2 separate regions of the Homo sapiens genome follow, and region 2 is linked to region 1. The links come from fine-mapping of genetic effects on gene expression. A gene starts in region 1. The other region holds a variant in brackets. All regions are shown on one strand. Distances are between the middles of the regions. Region 1 holds the start of GNMT (glycine N-methyltransferase). Region 2 holds the start of LINC02976 (long intergenic non-protein coding RNA 2976).

The links.
Region 2: its variant is fine-mapped to the expression of GNMT in pancreas (GTEx, PIP 0.95).

Annotation. Positions count from the first base shown.
Region 1 is chr6:42,956,438-42,964,757 of GRCh38, reverse strand. GNMT (glycine N-methyltransferase) reads right to left here and starts at 4,004. Exons shown (of 6, transcript NM_018960.6): 1 at 3,785-4,004; 2 at 2,419-2,546; 3 at 1,880-1,996; 4 at 1,544-1,686; 5 at 1,309-1,430; 6 at 878-1,223. The coding sequence starts at 3,990. The coding sequence ends at 1,052. It overlaps CNPY3-GNMT (CNPY3-GNMT readthrough), which reads right to left. Exons shown (of 5, transcript NR_134892.2): 2 at 2,419-2,546; 3 at 1,880-1,996; 4 at 1,309-1,430; 5 at 878-1,223. It overlaps PEX6 (peroxisomal biogenesis factor 6), which reads left to right. Exons shown (of 17, transcript NM_000287.4): 17 at 287-893. The coding sequence ends at 423. It also overlaps the pseudogene RPL24P4. RefSeq lists enhancers at 3,556-3,605, 3,784-4,285.
Region 2 is chr6:42,936,096-42,944,415 of GRCh38, reverse strand. It overlaps CNPY3 (canopy FGF signaling regulator 3), which reads right to left. Exons shown (of 6, transcript NM_006586.5): 4 at 6,577-6,699; 5 at 6,209-6,326; 6 at 5,122-5,848. The coding sequence ends at 5,625. The region is part of intron 1 of CNPY3-GNMT (CNPY3-GNMT readthrough); the gene reads right to left. It overlaps LINC02976 (long intergenic non-protein coding RNA 2976), which reads right to left and starts at 3,923. Exons shown (of 5, transcript NR_186646.1): 1 at 3,810-3,923; 2 at 3,487-3,643; 3 at 2,801-2,906; 4 at 446-618. RefSeq lists an enhancer at 5,310-5,812. The variant G/A (reference allele first, on the strand shown) is at 4,827.

The sequences.
Region 1 (8,320 bases):
AAAAGCTAGTGGGGAGCTGGGTGCACCTGAGTCCCAGCTACTTGAGAGGCTGAGGTGGGAGGATCGCTTGAGCCCAGGAGTTTGAGGCCAGCCTGGGCAACACAGAGAGACCCCAACTCTAAAAAAAATGTTTAAGGGAAAAAAAAAACTAGTGGGAGACAAACCTAGTCCTGGATTCCAGAGGGAAGATCATTGACATCTAGGAGACCCTGAGCAGGAAGCCACCTTCGCAGGGCTCTCCCCTGCCTGGGCATAGACCACAGCCTCCCCACCTTGTCATCTCCAGGGCTGGAGCCAGGTAGCTCAGCACTGATGCTCACCATGGAGGACTTGCTGCAGGCTGCCGCCCGGCTGCAACCCTCAGTCAGTGAGCAGGAGCTGCTCCGGTACAAGCGCATCCAGCGCAAGTTTGCTGCCTGCTAGGAGCCCCCCAGGGTCTGGGACCCCGCTCAGCATGGCTGCAGGTACCTTGATAGCCCACAGAGAGATCTGGGAAGGAAGGGCTCCTCCTCAGGCTGCTGCCAACCCACCTGGAGGCCACCTCCCTCCAGGAGATCCCAGGGTGCAAAGTGGCATTGAGACAGCAGCAACAGCTCAAGAGATATCTCCTGCCTACTTGCCCCTCCTTCCAGGCCGGCTCTAAGAGAAAGGCCCATCTACTCAGGAAGAGGGCCAGGGCCTTGGGTTCTGGGGATTGGGCCCTGAGAGGGCTAGTTCTGTGGCTGAAAATAAAGCATGTCCCGCCCCCTACTGGTGTTGTGGCATGAAAGGTTGGAGTGAGAAAGAGCAGGGTTGTGGGAGGAGTAAGCCCTGGGAGAGGGTGGGGGGGTGGGCAGCATGGGAGCCTGATCCTTCTGACATAAATAAACACAATGCATGCAGGAACTGAAAAAGACTATATTGTTTACCCTTCCGTCTGTGGAACCCACATCCCTGCACCCCAGCTGTAGTCTGCTCTAGAGGCTGGCCCTGGTGTGGGGCTGCTGGTCCCCATCTTCCAGACAGAGCCTAGCAGTGCCTGGGCAGAGGCTTGTGGGAGCTGAGGCCACACTCAGTCTGTCCTCTTGAGCACGTGGATGAAGTAGCAGGGAATGTAGGTTTGGCCTGGCTTGTAAGGCTTGAAGTCGCCCAGGACGCTGTGCTGGCACTTACCTCCGAAGGCTGCTTGGAGCAGCTCCGTGAAGGATGCCAGACAGTGTGGGTAGTAGGAGAGCCGGAACTTACTGTAACAGAGGCCCCAGCAACCATGAGGACTGGTGACCTCAGCTCCCCCAACTACCGCCTCACCCCCACTAAGCCAAGTGGTACCTCAAGCCAGGAGAGCCATCCTGGCCAGCCCCCGGCACCTGCACCGTATAGTCCAGGGTCACCATGTGGGCCTTGTTGTTCACTATCAGCACTGATGTTGTGACGTCCTTGGTCAAGTCACTCTGTAGGTGGTGGGGCAGCCGGCATTAGCCTCTGTAACCCACCTTGGGGCCACTGGACCCTCCCTCCACCCCACCCCCACCCCCACCCCCACCCCCACCCCAGAGGGCCCCACCTTATAGTAGATGTTCTTCCCTGGGGGTGCACAGCCTGTACTGAGGATGTGGTCGTAGTTGCGATGATCAATGACCAGTAGGCCCCCTGCCCGCACCATGCTCGCAATGTTTTTCAGCGCCAGCCGGTGCTCACTCTGGTCCCCTGAGCTCCAGGCACGGGCAGAAAGACTCCATCTGCTCAGGGCCCCCAGCACCAGTCTCCCTCCCATCTCTCCCCTCCCCAGGGGTGCCAGAGCCAAGGCAGAGAGTCTGCTTTGGCAGGAGAGCAGGTGCCAGATGTCTGTGGAAGGGGGCCTCAAGGCGGGGGCCATGCCCAAGGCCACACCCTCTCTTACCTTTGCAGTCTGGCAAGTGAGCGAAACTGTTTCCAAGGCAGATGACAGCATCAAAGCCACCCTCTGCTGACTGGGGCACATCTTTGTCCAGAGTCATCCAGTTGGCTTCTTCGATGACTAGGGGTCAGGAAGAGAAAGAGGAATCAGGGAGGCACGATGGTACCAGTAGCAGCCACCTCCACCAAGTGCAGTCCTGCCTGGGTTTCTTCTTAAGACACACAAGCTCCCCGTTCAGTTAGGGGGAGGAGAAAAGAGGGATCAAGGGAGAAGGAACCCTGGTTGGGAAGGAGGGCTCTGTGCTTATGGGTTTTTCTTTGAGGGGAGGGACAAGATGCCACAAACACAGTTAAAACCAGCTCTTCACACCCGGTGTCTCATTCTGGAGCTTAAGACTTGCTTTTCAGAGAAATGACAGTAATTTTTCTGTCTCCCCGAGGAAAACACAACACTCCACCCCCGCCCCCACTTAAAGGAGCCCCAGGCAGAATGAACAGTGTTCCTGGTGACTGGGCTGGGGGAGCCTGGCTAGACCTGCATACCCCACTTGTCGAAGGCGGGCTCGTGCCGCCGGTTCCAGCGCTCCTTAAGTGCATACTTCAGCATCTTGTCACTGGCATCCACACTCGTCACACTGAAGCCCTCTTCCACCAGCATAATGGAGTCCACCCTGAGTACGGCCAGCGAGGAGAGGCAGAGAGAGGCAGTTAGGGGAGCCTGGGAGGGCCAGGAGGAGACCCTGCACTGGACACTTTTGTCTCTACTTCTCAGAGTCCGTTCCTCTGCCTCCTCTCCCCAGGCCCTCTCCACTGACCTCACAAATCTGTTTCCTGTCACCACAAGGCAACTTTTTTTTAAAAGCACCTCTTCAGAGCCAGGCACTCTACAAATATGCATTAATTCTCATGGCAATCCTGAGAGGTAAATAGTGTCATTCCCATTTGAGAGACAGACAAGCTGAGGCTCCTTGAAGTTAAAATACGTGTGCACAAAAGGCAGTAGAACATGGTGGTTTAGAGCACAGGACAAAGCCGGGCGCGGTGGCTCATGCCTGTAATCCCAGCACTTTGGGAGGCCGAGGTGGGCAGATCACAAGGTCAGGAGATCGAGACCATCCTGGCTAACACGGCGAAACCCCGTCTCTACTAAAAATACAAAATATTAGCTGGGCGTGGTGGCAGGCGCCTGTAGTCCCAGCTACTCGGGAGGCTGAGGCAGGAGAATGGCATGAACTCAGGAGGCGGAGCTTGCAGTGAGCCGAGATGGAGCCACTGCACTCCAGCCTGGGCGACAGAGCACGACTTCATCTCAAAAAAAAAAAAAAAAAAAAAGAGAAAAATAGAGCACAGGACAGATCTTAACCAACCCGGGCCTGTTAGCTCCTTTTCACTGGATGATGTATGAGGGAATTTTACTTTGCTGAGGCCTTACTTCCCCAGTAGTAAATGAGAGAATATCACTGCTTAACTTCATGGGGCTTTGTGAGGGTTTGAAAAAGTGATGTATCAAAAGCTCCTGGCACTGGGCTTGGCAGGTGCAAATGTTGAGCAATGTTAACTGTTAACACTGCCCAAGGCCATCACAGGAGGAATATTTGCAATCTGTCCGTGGCTCTGGCTCCAAAGCCTCAGGGACGCTCACTTTTTCTGCCCACACCCTCACTCACACTCAGTCTCCCTTCTCCGGGGCCTCTCCCTGCGAACCGCTACCTGGACCCCTAGCCTCACGGGGCACTCGCAGTGCCTGTTCTGCCGGGCAGGTACCTGCTCCTGGCCCTGGTGTCCCACCCGTTCCAGGATTGGCAAAGGCCGCCCTGACGTGCCCGGCCCTGTGGTTCTGCGGCCGCGCAGTACAGGCTGAGACAGACCCCGATCTCATGCAACGCCCCCGGCCCCGGCCTGGGCTCACCCAGTGCCACAGGCTACGTCGAGCACCCGCTGGCAGCCGTGCTGGCGCAGCAGCCCAAGCAGCCATGCCTTGTACTCGGCGGTGCGGCTGCGGGTGTCTCCGATATACAGCTGCCACACGCGCGCCGCCTCCCCGTCCGCGTACTGGTCCGGGAGCCCTTCGGCCGCCACCCCCAGGGAGCGGGTCCGGTACACGCTGTCCACCATCCTGCGCCGCGCCTGGCTCCGCAGCCACCCGCTCCGCACTTAAAGCATAAGCACTGCTGGCAGCCGACAGCCCCACCTGGCCAATAGCAGGTGAGCGCGCGGACACGCCCCTGCCGGGCTTTGGGCCGGGCGCCCGAGTCTGTCCAGCTGCAGGGAGGGCGCTGCCTCGCAATCCTGGGCTAGGTCCTTTTAGCCAGCCTGCGGACCCAGCCCTCTGTGCAATCCCACGGCGGGAGAGGACCCTCGGAGCCCTCTGCCCACTTAACCCGGGTCTCGAGGAGAAGGCGAGAGGGGTCAGGAGAGGCGGGAGCAATGAGATTGCCACTCCATCCCCTGAGATCCGCAGAGCTGAGCGCCAGGCGGGCAGGACTGGACCGTTCCCAGCGAAGGAAGGCATCAGCATATCTAAACAAAGATTGTGCCACCGAAGTGTGTAGGTATAGTCAGCCGGTGCAGGGAAGACAGGGGGAGTCTCTGGAGGTAAAGCTGGTCTGTCCACCGAATCCAGGGGCGGAGCCCGGCTGGAATACGGTAACACGGTAACACGGTGAAACCTGGCTAACACGTCTCTACTAAAAATAAAGAAAGATTAGCTGGGACATGGTGACACGCGCCTGTAGTCCTAGCTACTCCGGAGGCTGAGCCAGGAGAATCGCTTGAACCCGGGAAGGCGGAAGTTGCAGTGAGCCGAGTGCACCACTGCACTCCAGCCTGGGCAACAGAGCAAGACTCCGTCTCAAAAAACAAAAAGCAAAAAACAAACAAAACCCTCTGCTTTCACAGGAAGCAGGAGAATAGGGTCTAGAGACAGGGAACATAAGGCCAATTCACACTTCAGTTATAACGGGAAATATCCTCTCCATAGGGCGTATGCCCGCCATTAATAACTTTGTAACTGTAACTTTACTTCATCCTCTTCATTTACATAGGGTGTACCCCAAGTAGAGGGTATTTAAACTCACAAAATGTAACAGGGCCTTTGAGCCCCTATGCTCATGCTCGCTCCCACACTGTGGAGTGTACTTTCATTTTCAATAAAATCCTTCATTCCTTTCTTGCTTTGTTTGTGCATTTTGTCCAATTGTTTGTTCAAGATGCCAAGAACCTGGACATCCTCTACCGTTAACATATTTTGGCGAGCCAGCCAGCAGAAAGAGGTAAGCCCAAAGTTTGGGATTCATTTTTCTCCCTTTCCTTTCTGCTCAATTACAGGGCCGCTCTCGCGCTTCTCTCTCTCTCTCTCTCTCTCTCTCTCTCTCTGCCTCTCTCCTCCTTCCTTTCCAACTTGGGACCCTTGGTGGGCAGCGCCTAAACATGGAAGCAACTGCAGGGTTTTTTTTTGTTTTTGTTTTTGTTTTGAGACACAGTCTCGCTCTGTCGCCAGGCTGGAGTGCCGTGGTGCAATCTCAGCTCACTGCAATCTCCGCCTCCCAGATTCAAGCAATTCTCCTGCCTCAGCCTCCTGAGTAGCTGGTATTACAGGCGCTCACCACCACGCCCGGCTAATTTTTGTATTTTTAGAAGAGGCAGGGTTTCACCATGTTGGTCAGGCTGGTCTCAAACTCCTGACCTCGTGATCCACTGGCGTCGGCCTCCCAAAGTGCTGGGATTATAGGTGTGAGCCACAGCGCCCGGTCTGTGCTACTCTTCTAAGCAGGGGGCCTGGTTAACGGGTGATGCTCTCCTTTGGTACTGTTTGGCCCCAGTGCTCCTTGGAGCCTGGGGAGGTTTAGCCTTTAAAAATCAAACTGTCCAGCACTTTAGGAAGCCAAGACAGGTGGATCACGTGGTCAGGAGTTCAAGATCAGCCTGGCCAAGATGCTAAAACCCTGTCTCTACTAAAAATACAAAAATTAGCCAGGCATGGTGGCACGTGCCTGTAATCCCAGCTACTTGGGAGGCTAAGCCAGGAGAATCGCTTGAACCCGGGTGGCAGAGGTTGCAGTGAGCCAAGATTGCGCCACTGCACTCCAGCCTGGGCGACAGAGCAAGACTCCGTCTCAAAACAAAAATCAATCAATCAATCAAACTACTTTGGCCGGGCACGGTGGCTCACACCTATAATCCCAACACTTTGGGAGGCTGAGGCAGGCAGATCAACTGAGGTTGAGAGTTCAAGACTAGCCTGACCAACATGGAGAAGCCCCGTCTCTACTAAAAATACAAAATTAGCCGGGCATGGTGGTGCATGCCTGTAATCCCAGCTACTTGGGAGGCTGAGGCAGGAGAATCGCTTGAATCTGGGAGGCGGAGGTTGCGATGAGCCAAGATTGCGCTATTGCACTCCAGCCTGGGCAACAAGAGAGAAACTCTGTCTCAAAAAATAAATAAATATAAATAAAAATAAAACTGCCATGGAGACTGCTTTACCCAAAATTTTGGTTCACAGCCTTCCCTGCATTATCCATTAGGGCAAAGTAAAACCTTCAAGCTTGTACTGCCATCTCATGGCTAACGTTCCAGGTCATCGTTTATGTGTGCATATACATGTCTAGATGTATTTACTTATATGTACACTTACTGCTATATGTTGTGTCTACCAAATTGACTTATAAGTAAAAGAGGGCTCCGCCAGGCGCAGTGGCTCACGCCTGTAATCCCAATACTTGGGGAGGCTGAGGTGGATCATGAGCTCAGGAATTCGAGACCAGCCTGACCAACATGGCGAAACCCTGTCTCTACTAAAAATACAAAAATTAGCCAGGCGTGGTGGTGGGCACCTGTAATCCCAACTACTTGGGAGACTGAGGCAGGAGAATTGCTTGAACTCAGGAGGTGGAGGTTGCAGTGAGCTGAGGTCGTGCCATTGCACTCCAGCCTGGGCAACAGAGCGAGACTCCTGTCTCAAAAAAAAAAAAAAAAAAAAAAGAGGGCTTAAGTAATTAAGTAAATACGTCTAAGCAATTTTCAAGTCCACTTAAGTATAACTTTACTAAACTAGCCAGCTTTAAAATTATTGGGGGAATAAAAATAAAAAGGCCTTCAGATTTGTCAGCATAGGTTTTGTCTAAATTTTATGTTTGTCTTTGCTAGATATTTTAAAATGTCAGTGTTAATTCAAGCTGAGAGCTTGGGGAGAGCCTGCCTCCATTGAGATAAATGCATATCTGATTGCTTCCTTTGGAGAGACTAATCAGAAACTCAAAAGAACGCAACCCTTTGTCTCCCACCTGTGATCTGAAAGCCCCCAAGCCTCCTCACCTCCAGTTGTCCCATCTTTCTGGACCAAAACAATGTTTGTTTTACATATGGTTTAGTTTTTGTTTTTTCAGATGGAGTCTCCCTCTGTCGCCCAGGCTGGAATGAGTGGTGCCATCTCGGCTCACTGCAACCTCCGCCTCCTGGGTTCAAGTTGCCAGAAATGCTTGTTCCCTGGAGGCTGGGTGCGGTGGCTCATGCCTGTAATCCCAGCACTTTGGGAGGTCGAGGTAGGCAGAACACCTGAGGTAGGGAGTTCAAGACCAGCCTGACCAACATGGAGAAACCCCGTCTCTACTAAAAATGCAAAAAATTAGCTGGGCGTGGTGGCGCCTGCCTGTAATCCTAGCAAATCAGGAGGCTGAGGCAGGAGAATCGCTTGAACCTGCGAGGGGGAGGTTGCGGTGAACCGAGATCACACCATTGCACTCCAGCCTGGGCAACAAGAATGAAACTCCGTTTCAAAAAAAAAATTGGCCGGGCACAGTGGCTCACGCCTGTAATCCCAACACTTTGGGAGGCCGAAGCGGGCAGATCACGAGGTCAGGAGATTGAGACCATTCTGGCTAACGCGGTGAAACCCCGTCTCTAATAAGAATACAAAAAAAAAAATTTATCTGGGTGTGGTGGCACGCGCCTGATATCCCAGCTACTCAGGAGGCTGAGGCAGGAGAATGGTGTGAACTCGGGAGGCAGAGCTTGCACTGAGCCGAGATCGCGCCACTGCACTCCAGCCTGGGTGACAGAGCGAGACTCCATCTCAAAAAAATAAATAAATAAATTTTTTAAAAAATTAAAAAAGACTTTTCGCCATCTTTTGTCTTTCTGTGGAGCTGTCGCCATGAAGGTCGAGCTGTGCAGTTTTAGCGGGTACAAGATCTACCCCGGACACGGGAGGCGCTACGCCAGGACCGACGGGAAGGTTTTCCAGTTTCTTAATGCGAAATGCGAGTTGGCGTTCCTTTCCAAGAGGAATCCTCGGCAGATAAACTGGACTGTCCTCTACAGAAGGAAGCACAAAAAGGGGCAGTCGGAAGAAATTCAAAAGAAAAGAACCCGCCGAGCAGTCAAATTCCAGAGGGCCATTACTGGTGCATCTCTTGCTGATATAACGGCCAAGAGGAATCAGAAA
Region 2 (8,320 bases), 20 kb after region 1:
CACCCGGCAAAACAATTTTCTGACAGATGGAAGTTAAAGGTGTGAAGAGCACCTTTTCCTAACTTGCATAAAGATCTATGGAAATGCCACCCAGCAGTCTCAAAGTAAGGAGAGGAGCCTGCCTCCTAGGACCTGCCCTTTCAAATGAATATGGAAGCCCTGATGTAGCACTCGTGAGATTTTACTGTCTGAGCATGTTTTGTTGTTGTTTGGTTTCAGACAGAGTCTTGCCTGTTGCCCAGGCTGGAGTGCAATGGCATGATCTCGGCTCACTGCAACCTCTGCCTCCTGGGTTCGAGTCATTCTTCTGCCTCAGCCTCCTGAATAGCTGGGATTACAGGCGTGAGCCACCACGCCTGGCTAATTTTTTGTATCTTTAGTAGAGACGGGGTTTCACCATATTGGCCAGGCTGGTCTCAAACTCCTGATCTCGTGATCCACCCACCTCGGGCTCCCAAAGTGCTGGGATTACAGGCGTGAGCCACCGTGCCTGGTCATCTGTGGTTCTTTTAATCATTGAACTGGAACAAACTGGCCTTGTGGTCTGTCCATCAGCCCTCGTGGTTCTAGTTGATGGAAGTCTTCAACAGAGATGGAGCCATTCTGCTGTTTGTGTTTCTGAGGACAAGACATTGACCCACTGTAAATTCACTGAAGTCCTGCCCCATCTTAGGACAACACCCTGGGTTTATCTTGGTGAAGTGAGTTCTAGCTGCCTCCTCTTAAGGACCGTGAGAGATGTTTGCTAAGCATGCAGACTCCCAGGTCTCAACCCAGCAAGTCTGAGGCAAACCCAGACATCTGTATGTTTAACAAGTATTCTAGGTGACTCTCATGTCCAGGTGAGTTAAGTTTAGAATCTTGTTCTAATGAGGCTTCTGACAGGAAGACGGAAATCAGGTTAACTTGAGTGCAGGCAGTACCCTTACCTGATTATACTTGTGCCCTATAAATTTATATAAATAGAAAACTTTTAAAAACAGAGGTTCTTTTTATAATTTCACACTTTATTACGAGCAGGTTTTTTGTCTCATTTTGTTTTTTGAGACAGGGTCTCAGTCTGTTACTCAGGCTGGAGTGCAGTGATGTGATCAGCCTAAGTCTCCACACTTAAGTGGAGTGCAAATGGGAGACATCCTGGTTGTTTTGGTGTTTTTTTTGTTTTTATTCGCTTTTTAGAGATGAGGGTCTCACTGTGTTGCTCAGGCTGGACTGGAACTCCTGGGCTCAAGTGATCCTCTCAAGCCACCTCCCAAGTAGCTGGGACTACAGGCATGCACTGCACATGGCTTGTGTTTTGATTCAGAACAGGTAGAAATTCATCTATATGAATTTCTGTATATCAGGTAGATTAATTTCTGCCTGTTCTGAATCAAAACAAAAACAAGCCATGGATGGGAAGGGGTATAGGAAAGTGGGAGGCAACGCCCAAGTTCGGAAAGGCTTGTGTGGTGGGGAGAAGAAAAGAAAAACCTGGGCTGGGCGCTAAGCCACACACCTGTAATTCCAAAACTTTGGGAGGCCGAGGTGGGGGGATTGCTGGAGCCCAGAAGTGTGAGACCAGCCTGGGCAACACAGCAAAACCCCGTCTCTACCAAAAAAAAAAAAAAAGGGAAAGAAAAAAACCCGGAAAGCCAGGTTTCCTGCATTCTGCCTTTCTAGGCAGGGCCAGAGTAAGCTGCTGCTGGGTGGGCTGCGTGAAAGCTAGTGAGTATGCAACAAGCCTGGCCCTTGGGAAGCAGTAACCACAGGTCAAAGAGCAAAGCAGTGACAACACTGCCTGCCCTCAAGACTGGGCCAGGGCCTGGGATTGGGCCACTGGGCCAACACCTCAGTAAGGAGTTTTTTTTATTTTTTTTTGAGATGGAGTCTCCCTCTGTCGCCCAGGCTGACCTCAGGTGAACCGCCCATCTCAGCCTCCCAAAGTGCCGGGATTACAGCCGTGAGCCACCACACCTGGCTTGGGGGTTAGATCTTTACCTTGTCCTACTTTAAAAATCAATGAGGCCAGGCATGGTGGCTCACACGTGTAATCCCAGCACTTTGGGAGGCCGAGATGGGAGGATTGCTTGAGTCCAGGAGTTTGAGACCAGCCTGGCCAACATGTGGAGACCCTGTTGCTACAAATTTTTTTTTTTTTTTGGTTGCGGGGGATGGAGTCTCACTCTGTCACCCAGGCTGGAGTGCAGTGGTGCAATCTCGGCTCACTGCAACCTCCGCCTCTTGGTTTCAAGCAATTGTCCTGCCTCAGCCTCCCAAATAAGAGGCTGAAACCACCCCAGGCCCAAAAAATAAATTAAAAATTAAAAAAATTATTGGCCGGGTACAGTGGCTCATACCTATAATCCTAGCACTCTGAGAGGCCGAGGTGGGTGAATCATCTGAGGTGAGGAGTTCGAGACCAGCCTGGCCATCATGGTGAAACCCCGTCTCTATTAAAAATACAAAAATTAGCCAGACGTGGTTGTGTGTGGCTGTAATCCCAGCTACTCGGGAGGCTGAAGCAGGATAATCACTTGAACCCAGGAGGAAGAGGTTGCAGTGAGACAAGATTGTGCCAGTGCACTCCAGCCTGGGTGACAGAGTGAGACTCTTGCAAACAAATAAAAAAGTATTTAAATAATTTTTTCTTTTTTTAGACACATGGTCTCACTATGTTGCCTAGGCTAGTCTCGAACTCCTGGGTTCAAGCGATCCTCCAGCCTTGGTCTCCCAAAGTGCTAGGATTACAGGTGTGAGCCTCCACACCTGGTATACAAAAAATAAGATGTTTAAATTAGCCAGGTACAGTGGTGCATACCTATGGTCCCAACTATTCAGGAGGATCACTTGAGCCTGAGAGGTTGAGGCCTGCAGTGAGTCATGATCACGCCACTGCACTCCAGCCTGGGTGACAAAGGGAGATCCTGTTCCAAAAAAGAAAGGTAGGGGAAAGGGTTAGGCATGGTAGTTCCTGCCTGTAATCCCAGCACTTTGGGAGGCCAAGGCAGGTGGATCACTTGAGGTCAGGAGTTCGAGAACAGCCTGGCCAACATGGGGAAACCCCGTCTCTACTGAAAATACAAAAATTAGCTGGGTGTGGTGGCGGTTGCCTGTAATCCCAGCTACTTGGGAGGCTGAAGCAGAGAATCACTTGAACCCAGGAGGCGGAGGTTGCAGTGAGCTGAGATTGTGACACTGCACTCCAGCCTGGGCAACAGAGTGAGACTCTGTCTCAAAAAAAAAAAAAAAAAGACTCAAAACAAAACAAAAAACAAAAAAAAAATCAATGAAGCTGTGGGGACAGAAGTAAGCCAGGCCTTGAAGTGCTGTTAGTGATAGAATGGGGGAATCAGAGGGTGGCCACCAAATCCTAGACAGTTCAGGGGGCAGGAAACACATCCCTGCCCTGGGTACCAGCCCCTCCACCTCACCCCCAGCCATTTTCTATGCTCAGAACAAAGTCCAGGACAAGACCTGCATCTAGACTGTAATCTCACTGCTCACCAGCTCCTTTAACAGGGGGAACATCAGTCCTGGAGATGCAGAGGTGGAGGCTGGACCAAGACAGTATCATTTTCCCAGGACCTGGCGTCATCCTCAACAGCTTAAGGAGAGACAGATTCCATTCTGTTCCACTCTCTATGGCCTTGGCTGCCCTAACCTGGTAGAGGGGGAGAGGCTGGGACCAGGCTATGAGGGGGCCCCTCACTCCCAGTTCAGCCCCCAGAGCCGCTGCAATGGACGCAGGGAGGCTTCAGCAGTGTATCCCTCCTACCCACTGGGCCTAGCCTGGAAGTGTGAGGTAGAGTTGCAGTGTGGGTGCTCACGGGAGATCTGGTGCGGGCACAGCTCCCCCAGGACTTGCTGCCATTCTTTCCTTCCAATAAGCCACAGCTGCTTCCTATTCGCCTTTTAGGAATCTTGGTGGTGGTTAGGCCAGGCGCAGTGGCTCCCACCTGTAATCCCAACACTTTGGGAAGCCGAGGCAGATGGATCATGAGGTCAGGAGTTCAAAACTATCCTGGCCAAGATGGTGAAACCCCGTCTCTACTACAAATACAAAAAAATTAGCTGGGCGTGGTGGCAGGTGCCTGTAATCCCAGCTACTCGGGAGGCTAAGGCAGAGAATTGCTTGAACCCGGGAGGCAGACGATGCAGTGAGCCAAGATCACACCACTGCACTCCAGCCTGGGCAACAGAGTGAGATTCCGCCTCAAAAAAACAAAACAAAACAAAACAAAACAAAAAGAATCTTGGTGGTGGTGACAGGTTAAGGCCAAGAAACTAAACCAGTTCGATACAACTCACACTGTCAGTGCCAGGGGTTGGGGGAAGAGGCCCTGGCAGCTGTGGAGAGTGGAAGTACCATGGATTTGTAATCTGAACGCCAGTGTCTGCGTCCCAGCTATACCACTCCTTAACAGCAGGACCTTGACTCCAAGGTCACCTGACTCCAAGCATATCACTTGACTCTAGCCTGTTTTCTCCTCTACACAATGAGGTTAACAGCACACCTCACAAGAGTGTGGTAATAGTAAAAGTTAAAGCATACAATTTGAATACATACAATTGTCATCACTACTGTACCAATTGCCCCGATCCCTGCCTTCAGGACAAACTGGGAGGTGCCTGAGCTTCCCCACCCCTTCTCCCTAGAGGCCAGCCTCTCTGCTCCTCCCTTGGCCCTGAGGAACATGGTGTGACCAGATGGTGTTGGGAACCGGGTGTCCTCCCAACTGCACTCCAGGTACAACAGCTAGGAACCTCAGAGTGATCAAGTGTGGTCATCAGAAAACAAGGTTCAGGACCAACAGTCAAGGCCAGGTGGAAGTAGGAACAGGGGC[G/A]GGAGCTGGCCAGGTAAACACTGCATTTTACACAACAAATGGGAGGCCTTGGGAAGAGGAGCAGCAGGAGAGAGGGAGGGAGGGAACGGCAGCCAGGTGTCCAGGACACGAGGGAGCAGCGTAAGGTCAGTGCACTGCCCTGGGCCTCATCCTATGCCCATGCCTCCCCTCACCCCAAGACAACCCTGGGCCTTCCCAGCACTTGCTGCTCCCGAGAGTGGGTGGGTTTTAGCCTTCCCCTCCTCAGCCCCACGGGCTGGAAGGCGAGGGGCAGGAAAGAACAAGAGGCTCCAGGGCACCTCTGAGGGCTGCAGAGGACTCAGAAATCAGAACCAGAACATTTTTACTCTTTGGGCTCTGGGAAGGGCCAGGCAGAGTGCAAGGTGTCCACAGGAGGGGTAAGCAGAGAGGAGCTACAGGGGGCTGCAGTCCTAGTACCCTGTTGGGGAGGACTGAGGGATGGTGAGTTTGGTCTCCGGAGGGGGCTCCAGTCCTGGTGCCCAGTTCTGACACCTGCCCCTCCTGAGTTCACACTGGAGTCCTTGCAGTCCTGAAACCACAAGGCCTGCCTGAACCCTGGGTCAGGAGAGAAACACTTGGGGAGGGGAAAGGACGGCGTGGGCTACCCATGACGGCTCTGAGTTCTTCCTGGGGCTTGTGTCTTTCCTTGGCAGAAGAGGGCACAGCCAAGGCAAGGAGGGGCTGAAGGCTGCGGGGCCATCCCGGCCTGCCAGAGCCATGCCCCTGACTCCTCAGCTTCAAAATCAGGGGTCTCAGGACAGAGGATGCTGGGTGGGCTCAGAGCTCATCAGGGGGGCTGTGTGTGAGAGGGGATGCCTTCTGGATGCCCTCATCCTCCTCGGGGCTGGGGTCTCCCTCAAGGCCACCCAGCTCCTTCCTTTGTTTGCTGCTGCTACTCCTGCCGCCTGCTGCCTTGGCCCTGCTGCTCTTCTTCTTGGACTTCTTCCCTCCCAGGGCAGCTGTGTCTCCCTTCTTGCCGGACCACTGCTCTGCCAGGCAACCTAGGGTGTGGAGGAGAGAGACCCTCAACAGAAGTGCCTCAGGGCTGGGGTGCTGGGCAAGGAGCACTGAGCAGGGAGCCGTGGGAGTAGCAACTGGGACTGTGCTTGACATCAGCCTCCCTGCCTCCTGCCTCTCGCTGTGGCCACCAGGCCCCTCTGGGGGCATCTGACTTGTCTGCCCATCATTCTGCACCTGGTTTCAGTGACTCTTACTTCACCATGTCTTGCCAATCAAGCCTTTCAAGGGCAGAGATCCTACAATGCCCTCTGGTGCCCTCTGTTTCTCCTCCTACCCACCTCCCCCAAGGGAGAGCAAACAAATCATCCAGAGCCAGCCTGCCCTTGCTTCCCCAAACTCACTGGTGTCTTTTCCCTTCAGCACGTGGTTGGCGCAGAGGAATTCAGTCAGGTCTTCCTCCTGGTGGTTCCTGTACCAGTCCTCGATCACCTCCTCAAACTCTTCCACCAGCACATCACACTGTTAATCATAATACCTCATATTGGCAAAGCCCCAGCACCTGACTCGCTCCTAGAGGAGCTCAGCTAAGCCTCGCAACCCACTGCAAGGTAGGCAGTGGCAGCGGTTCACCTAAGGAAACTGAGGCCAGAGAGGTGAAATGACCTGACCAAAGCCACCCCGGCCTGGGTGGACTTCCTCAGAGCAGACCCAATCCCCACCAGCCCCTCACTGGGCACAGCAACCCTTCCAAGGGCTGAAGGGCCTGTACCTGCTTCTTGAGGTCAGCCACCTCTGCAGAAGTCTCGTTCCACAGCTCATAGGGGATGTCCATCACCACCTTGACCCCTTTGTGTACCAGGTTGTGTAATGTCTCAAAGGTCTCTGACATGCCCTGGAAGAAGCGACCAGATATGGCAGGCGGAGCTCCCTTCTCTCCCTCCCACCCTCGTCTCCCAGTGGTGGCTAAGAACCCAGCTATAAGACCAATGCTCAACGCCCTCTAAGGATCCTCATCCTTTTTTTTTTGAGAAGGAGTCTCACTCTGTCGCCCAGGTTGGAGCGTCTCAGCTCACTGCAACCTCTGCCTCCCAGGTTCAAGCGATTTTCCTGCTTCAGCCTCCCAAGCAGCTGGGACTACAAAGGCGTGCCACCATACCCGGCTAATTTTTGTAGAGTTGGGGTTTTGTCATGTTGGTCAGGCTGGTCTCGAACTCCTAGCATCAAGTTTTCCACTCACCTCAGCCTCCCAAAGTGCTGAGATTACAGGCGTGAGCCACCGCACCTGGCCTCATCCTTGACCTGACCTTCCTCTTCCCTCTTTTAGGCCTGCTTCCCACAACCCCTGCACATATACCCCCTGATCTGCCTCTGCACACCTCATCGCTTCAAAAAGACCTGCGGCTGCCCTCAGGCCCTTTGGCTTTATGCTTCTTTTCCAGGAAATAGGTTTGTCTTAGCTCTTTCCCCTCACTATGGCTGGAAACACTCCCATATCATCCAGACCTGCTGTTCCGTTCTTCCTGGGTTGTGTCTTTCCTCAGTGGGAAAAAGGCATAGCTGAGGCAGGTAGACCCTTTATTCTGTAAAAACTATCTCTGCTAGCTGCCTAGGTCTTATCCCCAGAGAAAACATACTATCCATTTCCTCTATTTTCCCAGAGATAACTCATACAAATACCAATATCTAAATATATCCTCCCCCCGCCTTTTTACACAAGCAGTGGTATAGCATACACACTATTTTGCACTTGCCCTTTTTACTTATACCTTGAAGGGCTGGGTGCAGTGGCTCATGCCTGTAATCCCAGCACTTTGAGAGGCCAAGGTGGGCTGATCACCTGAGGTCAGGAGTTCGAGACCCCCTGGCCAGCATGGTGAAACCCCGTTTCTACTAAAAAACACAAAAATTAGTCGGGCGTGGTGGTCGGTGCCTGTAATCCCAGCTACTCAGGAGGCTGAGGTGGGAGAATAGCTTCAATCTGGAAGGTGGAGGTTGCAATGAACTGAGATCGCACCACTGCGCTCCAGCTTGGGCAACAGAGTGTGAGACTCTGTCTCCAAAACAAACAAACACACAAAAACCTTGAAAATCAATTGAATTCAGTTCCTAAAGAGCCTCCCCATGCTTCGTTTCCAGCCGCATACTAGTCCACCAAACGGCTGGATCAACGTATTTAATCCCCTATTGGTAGAGTTAGATTGTTTCTCATTTTTTTCCTGCTATGAAAAATAATTCTTAAACACTTTTTATTAAAGCAAACACAGATTTATTACTGAGTGCAAAATTCATACAAATTTCTGCTGCTTGAGACTATTCCCTTAGGTATCCCAGGAGTTTATGAATGGTATCCTTTGCTAGAAGGAAACTTAGGTAGAAAAATGTGGGTGGCAACTATCTTACCCTGTGCCAGGCACTGAAGATGTAGAGAGTAAGAACTATGGGCCTTGTTGTAAGCAGCTCATTCTCCAGAGAGAAAAGCACTCGTACACATACTGAGTACATGGGCCATCACA